3 separate regions of the Homo sapiens genome follow, and regions 1 and 3 are each linked to region 2. The links come from fine-mapping of genetic effects on gene expression. A gene starts in region 2. Each other region holds a variant in brackets. All regions are shown on one strand. Distances are between the middles of the regions.

Region 1 (6,216 bases), 110 kb before region 2:
AGGTGGTGTGTTACACAGCAGTGTGGCAGCAGCAGGACCTGGCAGCCGTTAGCCACTCCATTCCTGTTTTCAGTTAAACCACATTGGGTTGGGATTCAAAACATCCATCCTAACAAATGCATTATTCTATCCCGGTCCACAGCTCAGGAACCATGGACAAGAGTCCAAGGACCAGAGGCATGGAGTTTTCATTAGAAGGTTCTGAATTCATCTAATGGCTGGTTATTTTTACAGATGCCAAGTTTACAAAACATACAAGTGCACAGACAGGTGTGGGAGGTAGCTCGAAATATACAGAGTGTTCGCAACACTAGAGACGTCTTCTGGCTGCCATCAGGGGACTCGGAGGTAGGGTAGGCTTGGTGAGGCCCGTGGCTTGTGTCCGTGGCACAGCCTCCTGCAAAGGGGCTGCCCTGCTCCCCTGTTCCCATGGTGCCAGGCCGTGCTCCCCAGGTGCCTCCGGGGTGCTGAAGATCTTTTCATAGTACTCGATCAGCAGTTCAGTGAACATGTTCAGGGGCACAAGGGCACTCAGGGAGGAGACCCCCTGGGATGGCCAGATCAAATTCAGCCCGAAGACACAGGCCAGGTTAGAGCTGTTCATTTTGTTGAAGATGCTCTCCCGGGACACCTGGAGGAAACCACACACAAGTAAAGGGGAGTGAACACCAAGGGGCACGGGCACCTGGAACTCCCTCCCGAACTTAGGGAGAGGCGTAGGTGTAGTGAGAGGAGCACTGGACTGGGAGCCGGCAGCCAGTAATGGGGACCCTGTGCAGCCACCTGCCCACTCAGGGCCTTAGTTACCCTATCTCTAAAAGGAAGGCTTGGCCTCCATGTCCTGGAGGACCCTCTGGCTCTGACCTTCTGTGACAGCCTCAACCCCCCACTATCTCCTCTTCCACTGCACCTTCTGGGGAGATGCAATCTTGGGGATGGGCTGTAGCACAGACGGTACGAACTTGGTGACCTCTCTGGCCTCGGCTCTGTGAGTGGCGAACTGGGCATGATGGGGACCAGCCAGCACATCTAGGGGCCACTACGAGGGGCAGGGAGAGTGGAAAGAGCTTGCCTGCTAGAAGGGGCTCCTTGTCCATCTCCGCCAACACGTGCAACCCCAGCACGGGGGAGTCATTACTCCCCATCTTACAGATGAGGAATCTGGGGCCTGGAAGGTACAGGAGACTTGCCCAAGGTCATGTGGCCAGCCAGTGGCAGGGGGCCATGTGGACCAACGTGAGGGCAGGGCCTGTTCTCTGCTCCTTGCCTCCCTACAAGATTCAAGCTGGGGGGAACCTCAGTCAGAAACAGGGGTCATGAGGCGGTGAGTACCAGGGCAGAGCAGAGAACTGGAGGGAGGCAGGGCCAGGCACCACCCTCACAGATCTGTTGAGGATGCTCAGGTGAGATGGCTGGATGCCTTTCAGGCTCCCCCTGGCTGCCGGTCCCCCAAGCCCGTTGCAGGTGTGCACCAGCCAGGCCCACTGCAGGCCACCCCTCCTCAAGCCGAGGCCCCCAGGTGCCACTGGGGTGATAACACGCAACACCACACCCCACCAGGTGCATTCACATCGGTGCCCATGGAGGTGGCGGCTAGAGAGAGAAATCAGTCTCTCCTAATGAAAAAGAAGTAGGCTGGGTGCAGTGGCTCACACCTGTAATCCCAGCACTCTTAAGAGGCCGAGGCAGGTGGATCACCTGAGGTCAGGAGTTCAAGATCAGCCTGGCCAATGTGACGAAACCCCATCTCTACTAAAAAAACAAAAATTAGCCGGGCATGGTGGTTCTCACCTGTAATCCCAGCTACGTGGGAGGCTGGGGTTGCAGTGAGCTGAGATTGCACCAGTGCACACCAGCTAGGGCAACAGAGCAAGACTGTCTCAAAAAATTTTTTTGAGAGAATTAGGAGAGTTTAGTTTTGGGCCTCTGAGAAATTATGTCAAGCAACAGGGAGAAAAAAAATTGTTGTAAAACCAAGAAGTGACATTCTCCAACAGACTCTGGGATGTGACGCCTACTCTGCTCAGGCTCTCCTCACCCTGCACAGCCTGGGGCGAAGGCCTGGAGAGATGGAGGGGGTTAAACATTCAAGGCCGTGGGTCTGGGGGTTGGGGGTGGACCCACGTGGATGTGTTGAACCTTCCCCTGTTGGCTGCACAGGTTTTTGCTCCAAATGGATCCCTGCCCCAGGGGGAGAGCACACTAAGCCCAGGCCCAGAGCACTGAAGGGTTTCTCTCTCTCTGGTCATTTGCTTAGCCTGGTGTGTAGTAGATTGAATGGTGGCCCCTCTAAGATAGACCACAGAGAATCTGACTGTGACCTTATTTGGAACGAGGGCCGTTGCAGCTGTCGTTGAGGATCTCAAGATGAGATCATCCCGCGTCATCTGGGTGGGTCCTAAACCCAGTGACATATGGCAGGGGGTCCACACTTAGGAGGGAAAGGTGGAGGGAGATTAGACACACACACAGACAAAGGCCAGGGGGGAGCTGGAGGCATAGCTGGAGTGACCAGGAGCTGGGAGAGGCCAGGAAGGGGAACCTTCCCTAGAGCCTCTGGAAGGAGCACAGCCCGCCACACCTTGCTTTTGGACTGCTAGCCTCTAGAAGAGTGACACAGTAAATCTGTTTTAAGGCACCCACGATGCAGTCACAGGAACTTAATGTACGTGGTTCTGGGTGTATCCCTTCCCCAGGAATGGTCAGCTCAGTCCACTGGGCTCTGTACCAGTGGTGGACACAGCTCCCACCTCCTAGAGACTCAGCCCAAGCAGGAAATGACATGGGGGCAGAGGACCCCAATAACAAAAGTCACTGGCAATGGCTGAGGGACAGCAGGTACAGGAGCAGGCAGGGGCAGGTACGCCCTGTCTGACAGGCAGGAGGTCCGCAGCAGCATGGGTGCCTGACCAGGCCTTGGATGAGGTCCTTGGGGGGCAGGGAGTGGTATTCCGAGGCCCAAGCAGGGCATGACCCCAGACCCAGGGCAAGGAGGGGACTGGTCCATGCGGGCCCAGCATGGGAGGGAAGGCCACTGGGCTTCACCCCAAGCTCCCCCCTTCCCCACTCACCGCATGCAGGAAGCCCATGAGGTAGCGGAGGACGACGTAGTTGTGCTCTGGGAGGCTCCGTAAGATCTGGCGGCAGCCAGTGACACGCAGGCTGCTCTCCACACCTGGAAGGGCATGGGGCTCCCTGCTGAGCT[C/G]CAGAGGGGCCAGGGGCAGCGCTGCATCCCGGCCCGGGAGGAGAACAGGGGTGTAGGAAGGACAGCTCTGAGGATGGACTATCCCACATTTGGGCTTGGGACCCCCACTTATCTTCTGGCCGTATGGCTCTGCTCAGCAAACCTGTGTGTTTGGCTATTCTTGCTGAGATGGGGTTATTTATAAGAAAAGAGGTTTAACTGGCTCATGGTTCTACAGGCTGTACAAGCATGGCACCAGCACCTGTTCAGCTTCTGGAGAAGCCTCAGGAGGCTTCCAATTATGGCAGAAGGCAAAAAGGAAGGAGGTGCATCACGTGGCAAAAACAGGAGCAAGAGAGAGTGGGACAGAGGTGCCACATGCTTTTAAACCAGATCTGGTAAGAACTCACTATCTCGAGGACAGCACCAACCCATGAGGTATCTGCCCTCATGATCCAATCACCTGCCACCAGTCCCCACCTCCAAAGTTTCAATTCAACATGAGACGCGCTGGGGACTCAGATCCAAGCCCTATCATCACCTGAATTCTACAAGCTCCATCCCTCTGCTTTATCAGCCAGCAGCACCACCTTCCAGGAAGCTGCTAAAGCCGAATCACTTTATAAATGGGAGTGGTCTAGACCAGGGGTTGGCAAACTACGGCCCATGGCTTAGATCTGGCCCACTGCCTGTTTTTGCCAATAACGTTTTCTTGGAACACAGCCACGGACATTTTGTACATTGCCTGTGGCTGCTTTTGCCTCATCAGGGCAGAGCTGAGTAGTTGCAACAGAGACTACAAGGCCCACAAAGCCTAACATATTTACTATCTGGCCTTTTACAGAAAAAGTTTGCAACCCTGCTCTAGACGAACTGCCTGCTCAGGATTCTCAGCACCACAAATCGCCCACACTTTGTTGCTCTTGGAAAGGCAGTGTCCCACCCTCCAGGGGCCTGATGCAACTGGCCCCCACTCTGAGACCCCCCAGTTACCCTTATAACCACATCTACCACTGGAGCTCCATAGCCTTCCAGTCAAAACCCACCAACCAGCCAGGCACAGTGGCTCATGCCTGTAATCCCAACACTTTGGGAGGCCGAGGCAGGCACATCACTTGAGGTCAGGAGTGCGAGACCAGCCTGACCCAACATGGTGAAACCCTGTTACTTAAAAAAAAAAAAAAAAAAGCCGGGTATGGTGGCACACACCTGTAATCCCAGAGCTACATGGGAGGCTGAAGCTGGAGAATTGCTTGAACTCAGAAGACAGAGGCTGCACTGAGCCGAGATGGTGCCATTGCACTCCAGCCTGGGCAACAAGAGTGAAACTCCATCTCAAAAAAAAAAAAAAACCACCACCAACCAACAAGTATTCACCAAGTTCCCGCTGCGGGTGCATGTGTGAACATGTATGCACATGTGTGCACTCAGCCACATGCATGCCTATGCTACTGTGTACCCACATCCTCCAACACACCAATCACCCTCCCACTGAGCCTTGCACAGAGTTGCTGGTGACCACCGGGTGCTCTACAAACACCCACTGCCAGGACACAAGACTCCCCACTATGATCATTCCTGTTGGCTTCTTAATAAAAGCCATTATTCCATGAAATCAAGCTGTTGTTCAGTCATTTGAATGGACAAGGAATTCCCTTGAAATGAGTATTTCAACCGAGCCAGGTGGCTGCCATTTCCTTCTCTGGGTGTTGTGCCTGAACCTTATCTACGAATTATGGTCCCAAGTGGGTACTGGTGCAGGTCACCCTCAGCTCTGTGGTCCCTCTGAGAATACCTGCTGGCAAGTAGGCAGGACTGGTGAGCTGAGCGTCACAACCGCCAATGTCACTGAGCACTCCCTATGAGGGAGCAAGAGGTCAAGCATTTCAACCACCCCAGTGTAGAGAGAGGAGGAAAGAGAGCTCTGAGAGGTTAGGTGACTAGCCCGAGGTCACACAGCTTGCATGTGGGAGGCTGGGCCTCGAGGACTCTCTGACCTCCCCTTTCTCCTCTGGAGCAGGCCATGAGATCATCCTATGAGAGGCGCCTTCCCTATACCCAGAGGGAAGGGGCAAACTCATCTCTGAAGATGGCATGTCCCCCTAGTTTCCTGCCCCAGGCTCACTCCCCTGTCCGTCGCACTTCCCACGCCTCTCCACTCTTCTTCCAACCTGGCATCAGCACACTCAGTGGACTGGATCTCTGGGCCTTCGTTTCCTTACGAAGGTACCCATGTCATGTGCAACTTCTAGTAAATAAACTGGTATGTTTTTCTCTTGTGAATCTGTCTTTTGTTAGTCCAAGCAACAGGGCCCCCACCAAGGAACCTAAGATGGGGAGAAGGAAAAGATTTTGACCCTCCCTGCAGTTTCTAGTCATGGGGATGAGGTACCCTTGGCTGGAACACCTCACTTGGTCTGGGAGCTGCACAGAGAGCCAGGACCCCTGGTAGAGCCGGCCAAAAGAAAGAATTCTTACTCAAGACTGGTCGTGGTGGCTCACACCTATAATACCAGCACTTTCAGAGGCCGAGGTGGGTGAATCACCTGAGGTCAGGAGTTTGAGACCAGCCTGACCAACATGCAGAAACCCCATCTCTACTAAAAATACAAAATTAGCCGGGTGTGGTGGTGGGCACCTGTAATCCCAGCTACTTGGGAGGCTGAGGCAACAGAGTCATTTGAACCCGGGAGGCAGAGGTTGCAGTGAGCCGAGATTGCACCATTGCACTCCAGCCTTTGCGACAAGAGCAAAACTCCGTCTCAAAAAAAAAAAAAGAATTCTTACTCAAGTCAGCCTCCCAGATTTCTGTCTGCAGCGCGACTGTGTGAGGGTGGTCAAAGTCTCTTTGTTTTCTTCCTTTCTGAATTTGGACCAGCAGAGCCACATTCGGAAGAATGGGTTCTTTGGTTTTGACTTCAGCGCATCTGATCTCGAGGAGTCCTCGGTGATCTTCAGCCTCCCAGGAAGAGTCACTGTTTGCCTTTGTCTCTGTCTCTTGGGTCCTTTGTTGTGAAGAGGAGAATCATGGG
Region 2 (6,216 bases):
CCCAAAGACCTAACTTGGAGAGAGAGTCACTCAGCCAGGTCCTCTGCCTTCCAGGGACACAGAAATCTGGACACAACAGGCTGCCAGAAGCTCCAGGGAGACGCCCTGTGAAGGCAGCTGGGGCAGGACTCCGGAGCAGCGCGCTCTCCTGCAGCTAAGTCCCACAGTGCAGGGCCCAGAGGCTCTCCCCTCAAATGCACCCCAGGGAGGCCTGGGAAGCATCTGGACACACGTGATGCATCTTCCTTGAGCATCAGTTTTAATTAAAGGACCAAGGGGTAAAAGTTAAATAATTTGGAAAGAAATGGAAAACGTCTATTTTCTCTCCCCATGCTAATTTCACATAGATTTGAAGGGTAGTCACCGGCAGGCTCCGAATGGCTCCATCTTACACCAGACACCAGCTCCCATGTGGGAGGCACACCTCAGTGCCCAGGGAGGTGGCTCAGCACAGTGTGTGTGGGAGGAAGGTGGGGACACGGGGAACACTGTAGCTGCAGCACCGCTGGCTTCCAAGCCTGGCTCTCTAATCACTAGCCATGGGACCTTAACCTTCCTTGTCTGTTTCCTCATCTGTGAACGGGGCAGTAACAGTCCGTGCCTCCTGATGTGAGCAAGGAGTCAGGCAGCCAAGTGTGCAGTGAGGGTTTCATGGCCATTTGGTGACCACCATCGCAGTGGGGAAGGACAGCCAATAGCTCCTTTTGCAGATGAGGAGGCTGAGTGCCCCAGAAGGAGAGTGACCTGCCTAAAAACCAGGTCTGCTGACTCCTTCTCCATCTCTTTCTCACCCTCATGCTGCCTGTGCCTCAGTTTCCCTATCAGTGAAATGAGGGTAAAATCAGGGAATGGGATGGGTTTTTTTTAATGTGGTGAAACATACTGTCAGGCACCTCCAGGACCTGAGTTCCTTGCTCTCGTCTCTTTAACCGAAGCCGCCTTTAACTCCATCGTTTACAGTGTGCCCATGAATAGCTCAGCCTAGAACTGGCTTGTTAGGCAGATGGCATGATGTCCCAGGCATGTTTAAGTCAAGTAAGTTTCAATGACTCGGCCGGGTGTGGTGGCTCATGCCTGTAATCCCAGCACTCCAAGCACTTTGGAAGGCCAAGGCAGACAAATCGTCTGAGGTCAGGAGTTTGAGACCAGCCTGCCTAACATGGTGAAACCCCACTTCTACTAAAAATACAAAAATTAGCTGGGTGTGGTGGTGGGCGCCTGTAATCCTAGCTACTCTGGATGCTGAGGCACGAGAAGCACTTGAACCAAGGAGGCAGAGGTTGCAGTGAGCTGAGATCGTGCCATTGCACTCCAGCCTGGGCGACAAGAGCGAAAACTGCGTCACACACACACACACACACACACACACACACACACAAAGTTTCAATGACCCAATGATGTTATCCAAGTAAATTGGCCCACCCCGTCAGGCACTCCATGGACTTTTCCACCCGTACCTCACAAGCGAAGTATCCCTAGCCAGTAGGTGCCATTCTCTTCCCCATCCACCTCCCATCCACCTTCCAGCTCAATGGCCACCTCCTCCAGGAAGCCCTTCCTAAGCTCCCACAAACCCTTGGATTCTCTCTACACAGAAGCCAGACTCTGGGCCCCTGAGGGCAGGGACCAGGCAGCTGGCTGTCCACAAGAATCAGCTGGGCTCAGGCCCACATCCCATGTCCCTCTTCGCCCTACCCCCAACTCTGGCGTTGGTTTGGGGAATGGTTAGTCAGTGAATCGAATGAGGAGTCCACAAACATGATCCTAAAGCTGCCAACAGAGAGGCCAACCAAAGGACATCGACTTCTGAAACGGCTGAGTCTTAAGCATTGAGTTCTCAGCTGGACAAATGCCAACACTGCATTTCACAGGCAAGCGAGGGACGGCACAGAGCTCTCTGGAATCTACACAGCCTCTGTCACAAAACCCTGAAGTCGGTGGCCAAGGTGCTGTCCCCATCCCGCCAAACAATCCCACCCTCCTTCCCGGGTGGACTCTGCGGTTCCTTCTCCGGGGCCTTCACACTCCTCCCAAGGCAGCGGAGAAATTTCCAAGTCAGGGTGTGGCAGAGCCCGAGGGATTCTCAGGAGCCCCCCCACCCCCCACAGGATTGAGGGAAAGTGAAAGGCAGGGCCTCCCTGCCTTCCTGACGACCTCCGAGGCTGCTAGCGGATTGGTTTAAACTTTGGGCTTTTAGGCCGGGCGCGGTGTCTCACGACTGTAATCCCAGCACTTTGGGAGGCCCAGGAAGACGGATCACCTGAGGTCAGGTGGTCGAGACCAGCCTGGACAACATGGTGAAACCCTGTCTGTACTAAAAATACAAAAAATTAGCTGGCATGGTGTCAGTCCCTGTAATCCCAGCTACTCGGGAGGCTGAGGCACAAGAATCGCTTGAACCCAGGAGGCGGAGGTTGCAGTGAGCAGAGATGCAACACTGCAATCCAGCCTGGGGACAGAGCAAGACTCGGTGTCAAAAAAAAAAAAAAAAGTTTCTGCTTTTAACTCCCGGGGGGTTCCACCGCTGTGTGTTGAACCGGCCAGCCCCCCACCCCCTGAGTTTGAATCAGCGCAGCACCTGCCCCGGCCTCCGTTTTCTCATCTATGAAACGGGAATGACCTCACCCACCTTGTAGGTTTGGGGTGTGTGGGGGCGGGGGAGGTGCCTCCCCCAGGCGCTGACCCGACCTAACCTGAGACCCCAGGACGGAAGCAAAAAAGGAACATTTGAGCTGACACCGTCCGGCCAGACCAGACCAAAACGCAGGCTGAGAGAGGCGAGGGCGGGGAAGGCGGTGCGGGGTGAGAAGGAACAGGACAGGGGAAAAAGCAGAGGAGGGGAGTGTGGGGGGGCGGGAAAGAAAGGAGGTGAAGGGAGAGGGAGTCTAGAACCCACAGGGGACCCGGAGGCTGCGCGCCGGCCGGAGGGTCTCCCCCCGGCCGCACGTGGCGTCGCGCCCGCCTGGGCGTCCCTACCCGGCCAGCGGCCCCTTGTCCCCGTACACGCCCTGGGAGCCCCCGCGGCGCACCCCCCCACCCCGAGCACGGCCTCCTCCCTGCGCGCTCCCTCCCGCCGCCGCCCGCCTTACCTGGCCACGGACCCCGCCGGCCCCCACCTGCGTGCCGGGTCTGCCGCTCACCTGGCCCCTCCCCGGACGTGGCTCCCGGGCAGGCCCCGCCCCCCCGCCCCTCCGCCCAGCCCCGCCCCTCCGCCCCTGCTACCCGGCGGGAGCCATTTCCCAGGTGCACGAGCTGACCCTGGGTCCACCTGTGTGTCGGGGGGACAGGGCGGGGTCGGGCGGAGCACACGCGCTCAGGAGCCCCTCGCACATCGCACCCTGGGCACCCCGATTCCCGGCTGGGCCGCGTCCCCGTCCCGCACGGCACCCATGCCTGGGGCGGGCACTTTCTTGCTGATCCATTTCCCCATTTCTTATTTTATTTATTCATTATTTTACTTTATGTATGTATGTATTTATTTATTTATTTTGAGACGGAGTCTCGCGCTGTCGCCCAGGCTGGAGTGCAGTGGCGCGATCTCGGCTTACTGCAGCTTCAACCTCCCGAGTTCAAGCGATCCTCCCACCTCAGCCTTCATAGTAGATGGGATTACAGACGTGCGCCGCCAAGCCCGGCTAAGTTTTGTATTTTTAGTGGAGACCGGGTTTCACCATGTTGGCCAGGCTGGTCTCGAACTCCCAACCTCAAACGATCCTCCCGCCTCCACCTCCCAAAGTGTTGAAATTACAGGCGTGAGCCACTGCGCCGGGCCCCATTTTTAATTTTACTTTTTTGAGACAGGGGTCTCGCTCTGTTCAGGCTGGAGTGCAGTGTCTTGAACTTGGTTCACTGCAGCCTCTACCTCCTGGATTCAGGCGATCCTCCGGCCTCAGCTTCCCGAGTAGCTGGGACCGCAGGTGTGCACCACCATACCCAGCTAATTTTTGTAGTTTTTGTAGAGACAGGAGTCTTGCCATGTTGTCCAGGCTGGTCTGGAACTCCTGGGCTCAAGTGATCCACCCTCCTCAGCCTCTCAAAGTGTTGGGATTACGTGCCTGAGCTACTGCACCTGGCCCCTTTCGTTAGGGGTGTACAAAGCGTGGCAGAACTGGGAGAATTGGAGGGACTTGAGAGGAAATTTTCCCTAGGGTTTGTTGAAGGATTTGTATCTGAGGAAAGCAGCTTAGATACAACAAAATATATCAGGCCCAGAGAAACAGTAGTATAGGACTTCAGTCCAGGTCCCCCTGCAGTGCTTGGGGGGCCATAGTTTTTTGTTTGTTTGTTTGTTTTTTGTTTTTGTTTTTAGAGTCTTGCTTTGTTACCCAGGCTGAGAGTGCAATGGCGCGATCTCAGCTCACTGCAACCTCCACCTCCTGGGTTCAGGCAATTCTCCTGCCTCAGCCTCCCAAGTAGCTGGGATTACAGGGGCCTGCCACCATGTCCAGCTAATTTTTTGTATTTTTGGTAGAGACGGGGTTTCACCATGTTTGCCAGGCTAGTCTTGAACTCCTGACCTCAAGTGATCCACTCACCTCGGCCTCCCAAAGTGCTGGGATTACAGGCATGAGCTACCGCACCCGGCCGTGGGGGCCATGGTTTAAAGGCATTTTGTTCCTGACTCACTGCCTCACCCATTATCTGCATGTTCCTGCAACTTGTGATACAGAGAAAAATGTGTAGCCAATCAACAACTTATTATTTTTATTTTTATTTTAGATTCAAGGGGTACATGTGCAGGTTTGTTAGGGGATATATTGGGTGACACTGAGGTTTGGTTTTCTGTTGATCTCCTTACCCAGGTAGTGAGCACAGTACCCAATAGGAAGTTTTTCAGCCCTTGCCCTACTCCCCCCACCCTTCTGGAGTCCCCAATGTCTTTTGTTCCCATCTTTATATCTGTGGGTACCCAAGGTTTAGCTCCCCCTTAGAAGTGAGACATGTCATATTTGGTTTTCTGTTTCTGCATGAATTCACTTAGGATAATGGCTTCCAGCTGCATCTATGTTGCTGCAAAGGACAAGATTTCATTCTTTTTCATGACTGCATAGTATTCCATGTTGGAAATGTACCACATTTTCTTTATCCAATCCACTATTGATGGGCACCTCAGTTGACCCCATATCTAACCTATAGTGAATAGTGCTGCTATGCACATATGAGTGCAGATGGCTTTTTGGTAGAAAGATTTCTTTTCTTTTGGGTGTGTACCCACTAACGGGATTGCTGGGTTGAAGGGTAGTTCTATTTTAAGTTCTTTGAGAAATCTCCAAGCTGCTTTCCACAGTGGCTGAACTAATTTACATTCCCACCAACAGTGTATAAGTATTCCCCATTCTTTGCAGCCTTGCCAATATCTCCTATTTTTTGACTTTTTAATAACAGCCATTCTGTCCAAAATCAAGATGCTGGCAGAAAAAATAATAATAATAATAGCCATTGACTGATGTGAAATGGTTTCTCCTCGTGGTTTTGATTTGCATTTCTCTGATGATTAGTGATGTTGGGCATTTTTTCATGTTTGTTGGCTGCTTGTATGCGTGTATGTCTTCTTTTGAGAAGTGTCTGTTCATGTCTTTTGTTCTTTGTTTTTTTTGAGACAGAGTCTTGCCCTGTCACCTAGGCTGGAGTGCAGTGGCGCCATCTCGGCTCACTGCAACCTCCTCCCCTGGGTTCAAGCAATTCTCCTGCCTCAGCCTCCCAAGTGGCTGTGATTACAGACACACGGTACCACACTCAGCTAATTTTTGTACTTGTAGTAGAGATGGGGTTTACCATGTTGGCCAGGCTGGTCTCAAACTTCTGACCTCAAGGGATCTGCCTGCCTGGGCCTCCCAAAGCGCTAGGATTACAGGCATGAGCCACCGTGCCTGGCCCCTTGCCCACTTTTTAATAGGATTATTTTATTCTTGTTGATTCATTTAAGTTCCTTATTGTTTCTGTATATTAGTCCTTTGTCAGCTGCATAGTTTGCAAATATTTTCTCTCATTCTATAGATTGTCTGTTTACTCTGTTGATAGTTTCTTTTTGCTATGCAGAAGCTCTTTAGAACAATTTACTTTTTTTTTGTTTGTTTGTTTTTGTTTTTTTTTGAGACAGAGTTTCGCTCTTGTTGCCCAGGCTGGAGTGCAATGGCTCAATCTTGGCTCACTGCAACCTCTGCCTGCCGGGTTCAAGCAATTATCCTGCCTCAGGCTCTCAAGTAGCTGGGATTA
Region 3 (6,216 bases), 99 kb before region 2:
TCCGGAGGCTGAGGCAGATGGATCACTTGAGCCCAGGAGGCAGAAGTTGTAATGAGCCAAGATCAGGCCACTGCACTCCAACCTGGGCAACAAAGCAAGACTCCGTCTCAAAAAAAAAAAAAAAAAGATACAAGGGGAATTCCTTGAAATGACAACTAGCCTTATTCAGTGTTATGTATGACGTTACAGTGAGTAAGCAAGGCCGCTTCCTGGCAGGCCCAGGAAACTTAAAATATATTGAGAACCTTGAGAAGAGAGGAATTCTCTCAAATCTACAGATACTGCAGGCAAAGTCTGATGGTTTTTTTTTTTTTTTTTTTTTTTTTTTTTTTTTTTTTTGAGACAGAGTCTCGCTGTGTCCCAGGCTGGAGTGCAATGGTGAGATCTCAGCTCACTGCAACCTCTGCCTCCCGGGTTCAAGCGATCCTCCTGCCTCAGCCTCCCGAGTAGCTGGGATTACAGGTGCATGCCACCATGCCTGGCTAATTCTGTATTTTTAGTAGAGATGGGATTTCTCCATGTTGGTCAGACTGGTCTCAAACTCCCAACCTCAGGTGATCCACCCGCCTTGGTCTCCCAAAGTGCTAGGATTACAGGCGTGAACCACCGCAGCTGGCCCTGATGGCAAATTTTTAACTTGGCTTTCTAGCCTCAAGAGGCTTTTAAAAAGTGAATCTGAGATTCCTTATTAAAAGTTCTAGCAAGGTAGACTTAAAAAGAGCCGACATAGGTCAATTCCCATTCTTGCTGCCCTTATGTAAATAATCAGGCCAAATTCTAATGAAACCAGACTTATTTTGTAACTGAGAATCAAGAGAGAAGCAACGGTACAGAGAAATGATGCTCCCGTGGAAAACTACGGCGCACGCTTGCGGGTTCTCAGTTCCTCTCCTTTCCTCCAATATCTGGCTACGACGCTCCAAGCTAACATTTCCAGTTTTCTCCTACCCCCTGAGTTGGCATGACAAAGAACTAAAACCTGCCATTTCCCCAAAGCCCCAAAAGCTGACGCTGGAAGACTTGATATAAACTTCAGAGAAATCACAGCAGATGATGTACGGATAGTCCTTGTGCCTCCTACTCAGTCTGCTCAGAAAGTTCACCGGAACACCCAGTGCCATCACCAAAGACATCTAAATTGCAAACTATGGAATTCACTGGCCAGCTGCTGCCACTCTCTCTCTACCATGAAAGGATACTTCAAGCCAACATCTAGGAATCTTCTCAACTAAATGTTCTCCTGACTAAAAAAATGGAGTTTAGGCCGGACACGGTGGCTCATGCCTGTAATCCCAGCACTTTGGGAGGCTGAGGTGGGCGGATCACAAGGTCAGGAGATTGAGACCATCCTGGCTGACACAGTGAAATGCTGTCTCTACTAAAAATACAAAAAATTAGCCAGGCGTGGTGACACGGGCCTGTCGTCCCAGCTACTCGGCAGGCTGGGGCAGGAGAAAGGCTTGAACCTGGGAGGTGGAGGTTGCACTGAGCCGAGATCGTGCCACTGCACTCCAGCCTGAGTGAGAGTGAGACTTCACCTCAAAAACAAAACAAACAAACAAAAAACAAAATAAAAAAAATCCCCGGAACTTATGGTTTGTTCAAACCACTGAACTTCATGTTTGTTGACAAAGAAAGGCCCCTTATTAACAGGCTGACTTAGGTAGTCACCCTACTCCCACCTCCACCGCTACCTCCTGAATTGAGACACAACTCTTTCCCTGGAGTGACCTAGTCACAGCACTGAGAGAAGGATTCATGCAACATGAGACAATCTACCAACTCAGTTTCTGGACTGTAAAACTTCCTGGGGAAAGTTCCAGATGGGGGAATGCTGGGGTCCGGAACACTACTGTCCCAAATATGGAGCCTGGGCATGCTGAATATGTTATTGAGCTGAAGGAATCTAAGAAAGGCAGGTGTGGGAAGGGCTCTCTCTGACTCCCCCTACTTCTGTGTAGCAGATCATAAAACCTTCTAATGGGAGGGGGTCTTCCCTATGTCCAGAGGGTGCCTTATCTCTAAAGACGGCGGAATGACAAAAGGAATTGAAGCTCCATGACTTTCCACTCTTCACCAAACCTAGTATCAAAACATTCGGGCTGAACCATGTCTTCACCTTCCTTCACCTTCCTTCCTCCCTTCCTTTTTTTTTTTTTTTTTTTTTTTTTTTTGACAAAGTCTCACTCTGTCGCCCAGGCTGGAGTGCAGCAGTGCGATCTCGGCTCACTACAACCTCTGCCTCCTGGGTTCAAAGCAGTTCTCGTGCCTCAGCCTCCTGAGTAGCTAGGATTACAGGTGTCCACCACCACGCCCAGCTAATTTTTGTATTTTTAGTGGAGACGGGGTTTCACCATGTTGGCCAGGCTGATCTCAAACTCCTGACCTCAGGTGATCCACCCACCTTGGCTTCCCGAAGTGCTGAGTTTACAGGAGTGAGCCACTGCACCCGGCCCATTTTCTTTATTTCTTTTCTTTCTTGCTTGCTTTCCTCCCTCCCTCCCTCCATCATTCCTTCTGTTTTGGGGACATGGTCTTGCTCTTTTGTCCAGGCTGGAGTACAGTGGTGTGATCATGGCTCACTGTAGCCTCCAACTCCCAGGCTCAGGTGATCTCCCACCTCAGCCTCCTGAGCAGCTGGGACTACAGGCATACACTACCAAGCCCAGCCAATTTTTAAAATCTTTTGTAGAGATGGGGTCTCACTATGTTTCCCAGGCTGGACTCAAACTCTTGGACTCAAACTCTTGGACTCAAGTGATCTTTCTGCCTTGGCCTCCCAAAGTGCTGGGATTACAGGCATGAGCCACCATGCCCAGCCTGGGTCTTCATTTTCTTCATTTTCATAAAGGTTCCCATGTCAGGTGGAGGTTGCAGTGTGCCGAGATTATGCCACGGCACTCCAGCCTGGGCGACAGAGCGAGACACTGTCTCAAAAATTAAATAAATAAATAAATAAATAAATAAATATTTAAAAGGCTCCTGTGTCATGTAAAACTTACATTAAATAAACTGGCATGCTTTTCTC[G/A]TGTGAATCTGTCTTTTGTCAGAATAACAAGTTACAGGGTTCCCACCAATGAACCTAAGACGGGTAGCAGGAAAGGATTTTTTCCTTCCCAACAGAGGGTTGCTTAATATGACTACGCTCTCCAGGTTTGTTAATTGGTGCCTATCCGGAAGTGGACAAATGTCTGGTATCTTTATGACCGGAGGCAGTGGTGCAAGCCAGAGCTGGGTCCTTCCCTCCCCGGGGACTGGGAGGCAGAGGTAGCACTTTGAATGTTTTCATTTCAAAGAGATGGCTCTCAGGTCCTTGACATAGCTCTGGGTGGTAGATGATTTTCATCTCAAAGGACAGATAAAGGATTCATAATTGCAAGCTTTTTTTTTTTTTTTTTTTGAGATGGAGTCTTGTTCTGTCACCTAGGCTGCAGTGCAATGGCACGATCCTGGCTCACTACAACCTCTGCCTCCTGGGTTCAAGTCATTCTCCTGCCTCAGCCTCCTGAGTAGCTGGGATTACAGGCGTGCACCACCACGCTTGGCTAATTTTTGTATTTTAGTAGAGACAGGGTTTTGCCATGTTGACCAGGCTGGTCTTGAACTCCTATGACAAGTGATCCACCCAACTCAGCCTCTCAAAGTGCTGGGATTACAGGTGTGAGCCACCATGCCTGGCCCACAATTGCAAGCTTTCTAAAGGAACTGCTGCTCAAAGAGGGGTTCCAGGGCCTATCTCCCTGTCACCAGGTTTTGGCTGGAACAAACAGTAAGTTCGCCTGGCAGCATTGAGTTTTCTCAAGCAGGAACCTACAGAGGCTGGAGTCATCATCCCTCTGCAGGGGCTAATGAAGTTGGGAGGCTTCTGGAAGCTTCTCTCTAGGACACAGCCTGGCGCATTCAGGTGATGGAGCATTGTCCATCTTGCCTGCTCTGGCCCCGGCTGGTAGGATGCTGCTGAATGTAGTGCCTCCTTCTGTCTCCACCAGATAGGTACCTCTATGCGCATGATCAAATTTGTCTCCATGAGGCTCAGCCTGGCTCTGAACTCTCCCAGGCTTCCCATCCACTAGCCAAAGTCAGTCAGCCCTCAACATCTTTCATGGTCTTCCAGGGTGTAGGAGAGACCTTCCCCATCTCAGAAAGGGCGTTGCATTTGGCAGGCGCTTAGGAGCACTGCTGAGTAAATGGGTGTAAATTTGCCTTTGAGGGGAGTTTGGGGTCCAGCGACCTTGACAGGACGCCTTGAGACTGAAATCAGTCTCCAGCCCCATGCCCTCCCCAGAGGTCAGGCTGGTCTCACATCACTCAAAGCCCGCACCCTCTAACCATGTAATTGGTCTTTCTGGAATGGCCACCCCTACACCCCTATCTTGAGTCACACCATAACCATGAGTTACCATAAACCATCAGGGCCCCTGATGAGTGACAAAGGTAACTCCTGCCCCTTGGGAAAGTGCAAGGTTCAGAAGTCACCCCCCAGGGGCCAGGACAAAGGCCAGGCTGCCCTTTGGGCAAATGTGATTCTTGAATACACAGTGGGGTAGAAACATTGATTTTAAGATTCAAGATTTGTCTTTACGATATCTTAACCGAGCTGCTTCAGAATTCACACCAAAATCAGCTCCCCCCTTCGACTGTTAGTGCTCCAAGAAGAAAGGAGGGCGCTGGAGGTAGTCCCATTTGAAAAGACGGTGTTCGATGACTTAGATGAAGGCCTGAGGGGTTTTATGGTTCTTTCGAGGCATCACTTTCCTTAGCATTCACCAGTGTTTTGAGATGCTGTTACGGAGTTTTTTACGAGTCATCTGTGCTCAGCCACACTGAGCATTTGACCCATCACAAAGCGCCTGTAGGATCAGACACTATAGCTGCTCAGTTCCTGTGATATATGCTTGGCATCCTACAATGATCTGGGGAGAAATGCCGAGAGCCCTTTCTAGATGAGAGAGCTGAGGGTCTGGGGCCTGGGAGCGGTTACAGGCAGGACTTTGACCAGGATGATGAGCCCCAAATCTAGAGAGCCCCCCATCACCCTGCCTCCTGGCCCAGCTGTGCCTGAGAGACCGGCCTGGACAACCCTGACCGACCCCACCTCCTCTGCCTTTGGACAGTGTGGACTGGCTGTGCATGGTGGGGGCAGCCCCAACAACCCCCTCTCTTGCCCTGCAGTGCCAGATGGCAACAGGAGGAGGGTGGGTACACGTCACCTCGGCCACCCCAGAGCCTGACCCTGGGCCAGTAGCTGGGGGACAGCATCTGAGGACCAAGCCCCCCACCCCTGCGCCAGGGCAGCTACGCACAGGTGATCCCGAGAATCTGCTCGTAGGCCTGGAAGGTCAGAAGCGGCTGGGGCAGCTCTCGCAGGAAGGTCTTCAGGATCACGGCAGGGATGTGAATGTCCCCGTAGTCGTCAAAGTTCACGGGCTTCCCTGCACACACAACACAGCACTGCTGAGGTCTGCACCCCGGCCTGGGCACTGCCGCTGCAGAACGAGCTCTGAGACACAGGGCGTGAGATGTCCGGATGGGACGCACCTGATGCTGGAGCCATGTGTCCTAGGGATGATGCTGTCCCCACCTAGAAATGGGTGTGCTCTGGCCCCATCAGCCCCTACACTACCCTAACTGCCTCCTCCCGGGCTCCCAGTGGGGACTGGGGTGGGCTGCTGGCTTCTCTGTGGCATGCTGTTGCTCCCGGCTACAATGCCAGCTCTCTGAGGCCAGGTCTGTGGCAGAGATGACACCGCAGGCCCTGGGCCTGAGACAGGCAGGCCTGAGCTGGGCCCCGTGCAGACCTGATGCTCCATGATTGTGTAATGCACAACTGATGACGGGAGCGAGTGGGAGCGAGGGCAAGTCTTGTCAGCAAGACAGCGCCTTCATTAGCGTCAGTGCAATGCATCCTCAGCTCAGAGGCCACTGCCCCTGCCTGCGGGTTACACATGGCAGTTAAGGAAGCCGTGCTGAGCCAATTCGGGGGAGCTGCCAGATAAAAAAAACCAGCTTCCCTGCACTGCAGGGTGTCTCCTGAAAGCACGTGCCACGTGGTGTGGATGGAGAGACCCTAAAGGCAAAATGGCATCATGCGGCCACCATGTCCCAGTGGGGTTGGGGGTCTGGACAAAAGGTCCCCACTCTGGACTACCAGTGGGCCCCTCGATGCCTCCTGGGAAGCTGCCCCCACCCTGAGTGTTTTCTGGGAGTTGGGTGGGT

Alleles and levels. Alleles are on the strand shown, and positions count from the first base shown. SD is a standard deviation of normalised expression in the study named. Not every link is listed here.
With allele C in place of G in region 1, the expression in esophagus mucosa of the gene that starts at base 3,142 in region 2 is higher (moderate effect, 0.68 SD a copy in GTEx).

What was found.
Region 1: its variant is fine-mapped to the expression of ARHGAP8 in esophagus mucosa (GTEx, PIP above 0.99). The same link has a PIP of 0.9 or more in lung, pancreas, prefrontal cortex, prostate, stomach and subcutaneous fat.
Region 3: its variant is fine-mapped to the expression of ARHGAP8 in thyroid (GTEx, PIP above 0.99).

The regions. Positions count from the first base shown.
Region 1 is chr22:44,856,690-44,862,905 of GRCh38, reverse strand. PRR5-ARHGAP8 (PRR5-ARHGAP8 readthrough) reads right to left here. Exons shown (of 15, transcript NM_181334.6): 14 at 3,072-3,175; 15 at 122-631. The coding sequence ends at 311. ARHGAP8 (Rho GTPase activating protein 8) reads right to left here. Exons shown (of 12, transcript NM_181335.3): 11 at 3,072-3,175; 12 at 122-631. The coding sequence ends at 311. It overlaps LOC105373062 (a long non-coding RNA gene), which reads left to right. Exons shown (of 4, transcript XR_938302.3): 4 at 3,423-3,450. Among named protein-coding and RNA genes, the nearest start is that of ARHGAP8, 110 kb to the right of the region's middle. RefSeq lists an enhancer at 2,858-3,552. The variant C/G (reference allele first, on the strand shown) is at 3,206.
Region 2 is chr22:44,749,501-44,755,716 of GRCh38, reverse strand. ARHGAP8 (Rho GTPase activating protein 8) reads right to left here and starts at 3,142. Exons shown (of 12, transcript NM_181335.3): 1 at 3,090-3,142. The region is part of intron 4 of PRR5-ARHGAP8 (PRR5-ARHGAP8 readthrough); the gene reads right to left.
Region 3 is chr22:44,848,148-44,854,363 of GRCh38, reverse strand. PRR5-ARHGAP8 (PRR5-ARHGAP8 readthrough) reads right to left here. Exons shown (of 15, transcript NM_181334.6): 13 at 5,304-5,432. It overlaps ARHGAP8 (Rho GTPase activating protein 8), which reads right to left. Exons shown (of 12, transcript NM_181335.3): 10 at 5,304-5,432. Among named protein-coding and RNA genes, the nearest start is that of ARHGAP8, 99 kb to the right of the region's middle. The variant G/A (reference allele first, on the strand shown) is at 3,029.